Homo sapiens: one gene and its partner. The protein of the gene in region 1 purifies or fractionates together with the protein of each later gene. This does not show direct contact. Each region holds a gene or a part of one and is shown on either strand. Other genes may lie near its edges.

Evidence for each region. Proteins that work in one complex are often made in the same cells at the same time.
Region 2: the proteins of CCDC6 (region 1) and PPP2R1A purify together in Homo sapiens (affinity purification with mass spectrometry; 5 studies listed by BioGRID and IntAct, with this or other methods). This does not show direct contact.

Annotation. Positions count from the first base shown.
Region 1 is NC_000010.11:59,896,504-59,900,159, forward strand, and holds part of CCDC6 (coiled-coil domain-containing protein 6), read right to left. Parts: intron 1-3,656.
Region 2 is NC_000019.10:52,210,512-52,214,167, reverse strand, and holds part of PPP2R1A (serine/threonine-protein phosphatase 2A 65 kDa regulatory subunit A alpha isoform), read right to left. Parts: intron 2,909-3,656; coding exon 2,676-2,908; intron 1,483-2,675; coding exon 1,335-1,482; intron 1,214-1,334; coding exon 1,058-1,213; intron 1-1,057. UniProt on the Homo sapiens protein: The PR65 subunit of protein phosphatase 2A serves as a scaffolding molecule to coordinate the assembly of the catalytic subunit and a variable regulatory B subunit.

The sequences.
Region 1 (3,656 bases):
ACACTTAAGGTCCAAATTTATAACTTCAAGACCAGGACAGTAAAAAGCAGCTAGCAGCTTTTGTAGACCAGAGTAAGTCTTTCTTTAAAAAAAAAAACAAACAAAAACAAGAACAAAAACAAACAAACAAAAAAAATTAAGTCACTAGGAATAGAGGTTTACCAGGGAGGAAAAAAAAATGGGTGTTATTGTTTAATGGGTACAGAGTTTCCTTTTGGGATGATGAAAAGTTCTGGATATGGATAATGGTGATGGTTGCAAAACACTGTGAATGTACTTAAAGCCACTGAATTGTACACTTACAAATGGTTAAAATGGTGAATTATATGTTGTGTATGTTTTTATCACAAAAAAAAATGCAAAAAAAGTCACTGGTACTCTTCTCTGGGTACCTAAGGTATTTCACAATATAAACCCCATGCATGCAAGGCTCAAAATGGCATAAAACAGTTAATATACTTTCCAAGGGACATAAACCCTTACCAGGTAGTGATTTGAACCTGAAGAAGTCTAACTCTACTTTATGGAGAATACACTTAAAACAGTACTCTTTGGTTAATAAAAACAATAAAATCACCTAGTCAATTTTTTCCTCAAAGATTAGTAGGGCTACTAAATGAAGTGAAGACACGATGTTTTGACTCAACGGATGTCTTTGTTTAGATAAACTCTGGTCTAGTGAAGAACTCCACCCCACAAAAAACATCTCTCAGTAGAATAAAAGTTATCATTTGAGTTGGTATATTAGGATAATTTTTTTTTTTTTTGAGATGGAGTTTCACTCCTGTTGCCCAGGCTGGAGTAAAATGGTGCAATCTCGGCTCACCGCAACCTCCACCTCCCGGGTTCAAGCGATTCTCCTGCCTCAGCCTCCCGAGTAGCTGGGATTACAGGCATGCACCACCATGCCCAGCTAATTTTTTGTATTTTTAGTAGAGAAGGGGTTTCTCCATGTTAGTCAGGCTGGTCTCAAACTCCCGACCTCAGGTGATCCGCCTGCCTCGGCCTCCCCAAAGTGCTGGGATTACAGGCGTGAGCCATCACACCTGGCCTATTAGGATAATTTTTAAAAAGTCAAGCTTGCATACAAGTAATTTCATGAGTTGAAAAGTTATCTATATGAAACTCCAGGTATAATTATTTTTCTCTCAGATCTGTCCCTTTTAGCCTCTCTAATTCAATCTCAACAAGCAGACAGCACAAAAGACTCAAACTGTTCACTTATAGAAGCAACAGGTGAAGTGTTTAACACAGGTAACTAGATTTCTAAGAATTTTCTTTAGGTCACCCATAATCCCTGCTGCTTTCATTCTTTTACTCTCGTCCTTCCTCCTATGGAAAACTTTTTGAATGATGACTTATGCCTGGCTGAACATCCCAACTCTGCTCTGCAGTACCAAGTGGCCTCATTTGATCCTCAGTGCCCTGAGATGCCCTGGTGGGTATTACCCAGATCACTTTGGACACACACCTGGCACCACAAGGCTGGATTGATCTGGAACAGATGCATGGAAGATTAGCCCATCAATCAGCACTGCTTTTGTAAAAAACTAGAATTCAAAATTTCCTATAAAATAGTACCTCTAATTTTACTGCAAGAAGTCTTTGCTTTCAGATAGTTTCGGATTAAAAACTTGAGAAATTCCGTCCATCCACCATTATTCCATGAAAGAAACAGGAATAGAGGGAAAAAAACCACCTAGATAATTTCCATGTACTGACAGATGCAGATTATGAAATTAAAATATCAATGACATTTCTTTTCAATCATCATCACATAAAAACAAAAATTAAAAACAAACCAAAAGCCTCCCAGTGCCACCTCAGCATAAATTGAGCAACAGCTCTCCCCATCTCTGCCTTACATAATAAACTACAAGCTAATTAAACTGTGAATGAATGTGATAACTTGTTACCCTTAAAGATATTCACAGAGATAGATGAACTTCATTTTGGAAGCTGGAAGGTAAAATTCCCCTCCCTGGGAACCCCTACAGGAGTCGGCCTAAGCTTCCCTTCCTGCATCCATGTGTGTGTTGGTTCCTTCTGCACTGCACAATCCCCAAGGCTGGAGAGAAAGGCTGTTTCCCTCTGCTCTGTATTCCCTACAGCACCAGGCCAGGGCCAGGCTGAATGAAAGTCAAGTGCAATCCTCGCTATGCTACCGGGAGAGCCCTAACATTCCTTTTGGATATTTGTATCCAGCACACAGTATTATAAGCACTTGACAGCTGAATCCTGCCTCTTTGAGGCTATATTTATTTTATTTATTACATGCCATTTTGTACCTTACTGAAGAAACAAAGGCGGGGGCAGAGAGGGGAGACCAGAAAAATCTCCCAGCAAAAAACAAATGAGTATTGTAATGAACTATAATCATTAAATTGCACTCCATATGTCTGATCCAGGAACCAATAAGTAAAGGGGAGGGTTAATTCTAAATGACCATCAATCATATTGTTAAGCCTTTTTTAAAAGAATACTTATCCCTAAAGAGAGAACCTACACAAAGTGACCTTTGCAATTTACTGGTATCAGGGTTGGAATAGACTTCACAGCTGTGCATTTCACAGCCATAAAAGATAAGAAAATTTGACAGCCTTGGAGAAGTAGGAAGAATCTGCAAGTTAACACCACCCCAAGATCCTCACAATTAAAAATATTTTCCAGAGGATTAGTTCCTCTGTCAAGAAAATTGCAACCATCACCAAGCAGGAACATATTGAACCTGTGAACATTTACTCTGCCAACTTTGACAATTCAATATACCTGAAAACAACCACAATGTGATTGAAAACAAAAAGCAACACCTACCCACTAAGGAAAAAAAGTATGCAGAGAGGACAGAAAAGATTACCATTATTCCTTACTCAGCCTGACTGCAGTTCAGTAGTTTGGATTAGCATTTTGAAGTGTAAACACAATTATTTCGGCAAGGCATGATTTAAGGAAAACACACACACACAAATACACTGTGGTGACACTTGTGTCTCTGCAAGACACAGCAGACGTAAGAATTCAACAATCCCCCTACCCTGTTTTCAGATGCTTCCCCCATCACTGCTACAGGTCACCAGTATTTATTTGCATTACTGCATCCCCCTGCAATGGGCCAGAGTTGTTTCCCAGTGGTGCATTTCAACATTAAAGAGTCATAGGAAACACCTGGAATGATCTGCCACCATCACCAAAACCAAGGCAGCAAATCTGAACACTTCCAATGGGGCTACTTTTTCCTCCAAGCCCTGCTCAGAAACACTTAGAAAGGAGAACCTGAAAATACTTTGTCCCCTTTCAGATAAAATGTTATCAGGAACACCCAGGTGTATGCTGCAAGGTAGCCCACATCACCCAAAGCTAGAAGGCAAGGGCACACTGATTGCAATGGTCCCCCAAAGTATACAATGCATCCATTCACATATCTGGTCTGTTTCATCAACTATGGTAAAGAAAGTGTTTGCTGTTGTGGCAGGGGAGTGGCTCTATGAAGACAAGGTCCCAGAGAGAGTGTTGGCACCTTCATCACAGAAAGAAACAAGTACATACATACCCGTGCCTCTGGAGCCAGCTCAACAAATTTCTGGGTGTTTCTCACATGCCAAGCACTGAGGAATGTGATGAACAAGGCAAATTCTGCCCCCAAAGAAATTTACACA
Region 2 (3,656 bases), on another chromosome or scaffold:
GGGTTCTTTGTCCTCTGGCTGGAACAAAGTTCCTATCTTAGCTCTTACCCACTCATCTTCTAGAACCAGCTGTAACACCACCTCCCCTCCTCAATGCTTCCAAGGCCCCACATCTGTCTGTCTGTCCCACACCTGTGACACTTTATAATCAAATTTCCCCTAAGTCAGTCTTCCCCTTCAGACTGCCTAGCTCCATGAAGGCCAGGAATGATCCGAATTCACTGGCCCAGCAAATAGCTGGTGCTCAGCAAACATGTTTGTGGGATGAGGCAATCTGGATCCCTGTGGAAGGAGCACTGTCCTGAGAGTCACAGACCTGGAGTCTTGTCCCCTTTCTGCCTGGCTGGTAGTGTCACTCTGATCAGTTAATTAAACTTTCCGGGGCTGGGCGCGGTGGCTAACACCTGTAATCCCAGCACTTTGGGAGATGAAGGCAGGCGGATCGCTTGAGGTCAGGAGTTCGAGACTAGCCTGGCTAACAACATGGTGAAACCCCGTCTCTAATAAAAATACAAAAACTAGCCGGGTGTCGTGGTGGGCATCTGTAATCCCAGTCCCTCAGGAGGCTGAGGCAGGAGAAATGCCTGCACCCGGGAGGGACAGGCTGCAGTGAGCCAAGATTGCGCCACCACACTCCAGCTGGGTAACAAGACTCTAGCCTGGGCGACAGACTCCATCTTAAAAAAAAAAAAAAAAAAAAAAAAAAAAAACACCAAAAAACCCCACCTTTTTGGGCTGTCTTCCCCTTTGTGAAAGGACAGCTTGATTATGTCAGGAACACCCCACATGTGCTACCCTTCTCTGCTCCTGTGGCACTTTCCTCCACGTAGCCTTAACTTTGCCTCAGAATCTTTCTCAAGGCAGCACTTTAAGATGCCATGTCAATCAACCAGGATTGGCACACGAAGCGAGACGCAGTTAGATGATCATAGAGATCTTATTGCTCAAACGCCCAATGGTTCCATCGGCCTAATGGAAACCTCAGCTCCTATATGCTTCCCTTCTGAGAGTGTCAGTGTCCCCACCAGTGGGACAATGTCAACGGTCGCTCATCTACCTCTGTGAACTTGTCAGCCACCATGTAGCGGACGCGCCAGGACTTGTCTTCAGCGGCCTGGCGCAGAGTGGGCATCACCAGGGCCTCCAGATCCTCCTGGGGCAGAAGCTGGGCGATGTTCACGCACGCCTCCACCGCCAGCAGCCGCACCGAGTCCTAGGGAGAGGAGAGGAACAGTGGGAGGGCAGCAGAGGCCTTGCTGAGCTCTGGGATTCTCTTTCATGGGCAGGAACCACCAGAAGGACGGGAGAGCAGAGGGCCAGGAAGCAAAACTCACCTGCTCGTCAGAGGCCAGGTTGGAGAACATGGGGATGATCTCACTCTTGACGTTGTCCAGCTCCAGCACCTTGGCAAACTCCCCCAGCTTGGAGGCTGCGGCCCGCCGCACCATGGGGGTGTCATCTGAGCACAGGTTCCGGAAGTACCTGGGAGTCGGGGACGGGGATCCTGAGGCAGCAGGCAGTATGGCAGAGAGGAGCAAGCACAGACTCTGCAGTTGTGTGGGTCCAGGTTTTAGCTGAATGACCTTGGGCAAGTGATGACCCCCTCTCTGTCTTCCCAGCCCTATGAAACGGAGCTGATAGTAACAGTACCTACCCCACAGGTCCGCATGAGGTTTAAATGAAAATAGTGTGTGTGAGACACTTCGCAGATTGCGCATAATAAATCTAGTCAATGCTAAGTGCTGACGATTACATCATTCCCATAAAAATTGCTTAACCAACGAGCCAGGCACAGTGGCTCATACCTGTAATCTGAACACTTTGGAAGACCAAGGCAGGAGGATTGCTTGAGCCCAGGAGTTCAAGACCAGCCTGAGCAACATAGTGAGACCCCATCTCTGCCAAAAATAAAAAATGAGCCCAGCGTGGTGTTGCACACCTGTGGTCCCAGCTATTTGAGAGGCTAAGGCAGGAGGAATGCTTGAGCCCAGGAGGTTGAGGCTGCAGTGGGCTATGACTGCACCAGTGCACTTCAGCCTGGATGACAGAGCGAGATCCTATCTCAAAAAACAAACAAACAAAAAACTGCTTAACTAAGAGGCAGGTCTAGAGCCACAGAAAGGCTTTATTTTTCAGCAGCAATTGCTTCGATCAAAGGCGGTGGGGGCCAGTGTAAGTATCTAAGCAAGTGTACAGCCATAAACCAGAGTTCTGGAGTGAGTCAGGCTCAAACCCGGGCTTGACGGTCAATCGTTTGCAAAGTAGACGAGCAGGAGGCTGAAAACTGAGGTGGTTTATCTGCCAAAGGCACTGGACCTGGGACAGGCTGGAGATACCATCAGATGTAAGTTGCTGAAAGTTTTTATGTTCCAGATTTTGCTCTAAGCACTTTATGTGTGATAATTCTTTTAAATCCTCACATTAACCAGTGGGAAGGAGGACCTGTCATCATCTCAATTCCTAAGTGAGCAAGGGGGCAGAGGTGGGTAAACTGACACGTGGCCGTGTCCAGAGACCAACTCTCGAGGATGTGGCCTATCAGGTGGTAAGCAGGAGTGGGAGTGGAGAGAGTTCAGGGGCATTTGGGCCCCAGCTAGACCAAAAGGAGTCTGAGGCTTTAGAGAAGGTTGGAGCTGAGATGGGAGCTTGGAGCTTCCAAGGAGGCAGAGACTCACTGTCGAAGTTCCGCCTTCACAGCACTGGACACTCGGGGGTAGCAGACGGAGAAGAGGCCGCAGGCCGAGGTGCGGGAGGTGAACCAGTCGCCGCCCGCCAGCCGCTTCACTAGCGGCACAAAGTGCGCCTCCAGGTCAGAGGGCGAGTGCTCGTGTGAGATGGCCCGTAAGGACTCCACTGCCTTGTCCCGCACCACTGTCTCCTCCACTGTGGCCAGCGACTCCAGCGGTGGCTGTGGTGAGAACACAAAGTCACTGGACAGCTCCCTCTCCACCATCCGCAGCCCTGGAGCCCCATCCTGCACCCCATCATGGGCTCATCTCCTCAGAGAAAACTTCCCTATTACCCATCCCGACCTTCATTAAAATAGCCTTTAAAAATGGTTGCAATGAATGACTCAAAGGAAAAACGTAATATTATGCCAGCCAGCAGAAGGTCTCTGTCAGCGTGCCTTCCACAAAGGTTCTTATTTAGGGGTCCTTGAAGGAGTTTCACTGGGGTCCATAAACCTTAAAATTACACACGTTGCTTTCTGAGGAGAAAGTTCTTAGCCTCTCAAAGTGCAATGATCATCACTGACACTGTGTAGAACATCTACTCACTGTGTGTACTAGGCAGGACCTCCGTGTTGTACCAGGGGTGCTTGTTCTTCCTCACTGAATTCTATAAAGCAAGTCCTGATTTTAAAGAAGAGAAAACGGGCCGGGCGCAGTGGCTCACGCCTGTAATCCCAGCACTATGGGAGGCTGAAGCGGGTGGATCACGAGGTCAGGAGTTCAAGACCAGCCTGGCCAATATGGTGAAACCCCGTTTCTACTAAAAATACAAAAAAATTAGCTGGGTGTGGTGGTGCGCACCTGTAATCCCAGCTACTCGGGAGGCTGAGGCAGAAGAATCCTTGAACCCGGGAGGCAGAGGCTGCAGTAAGCCGAGATCGCACCACTGCACTCCAGCCTGGGCAACACAGCGAGACTCCGTCT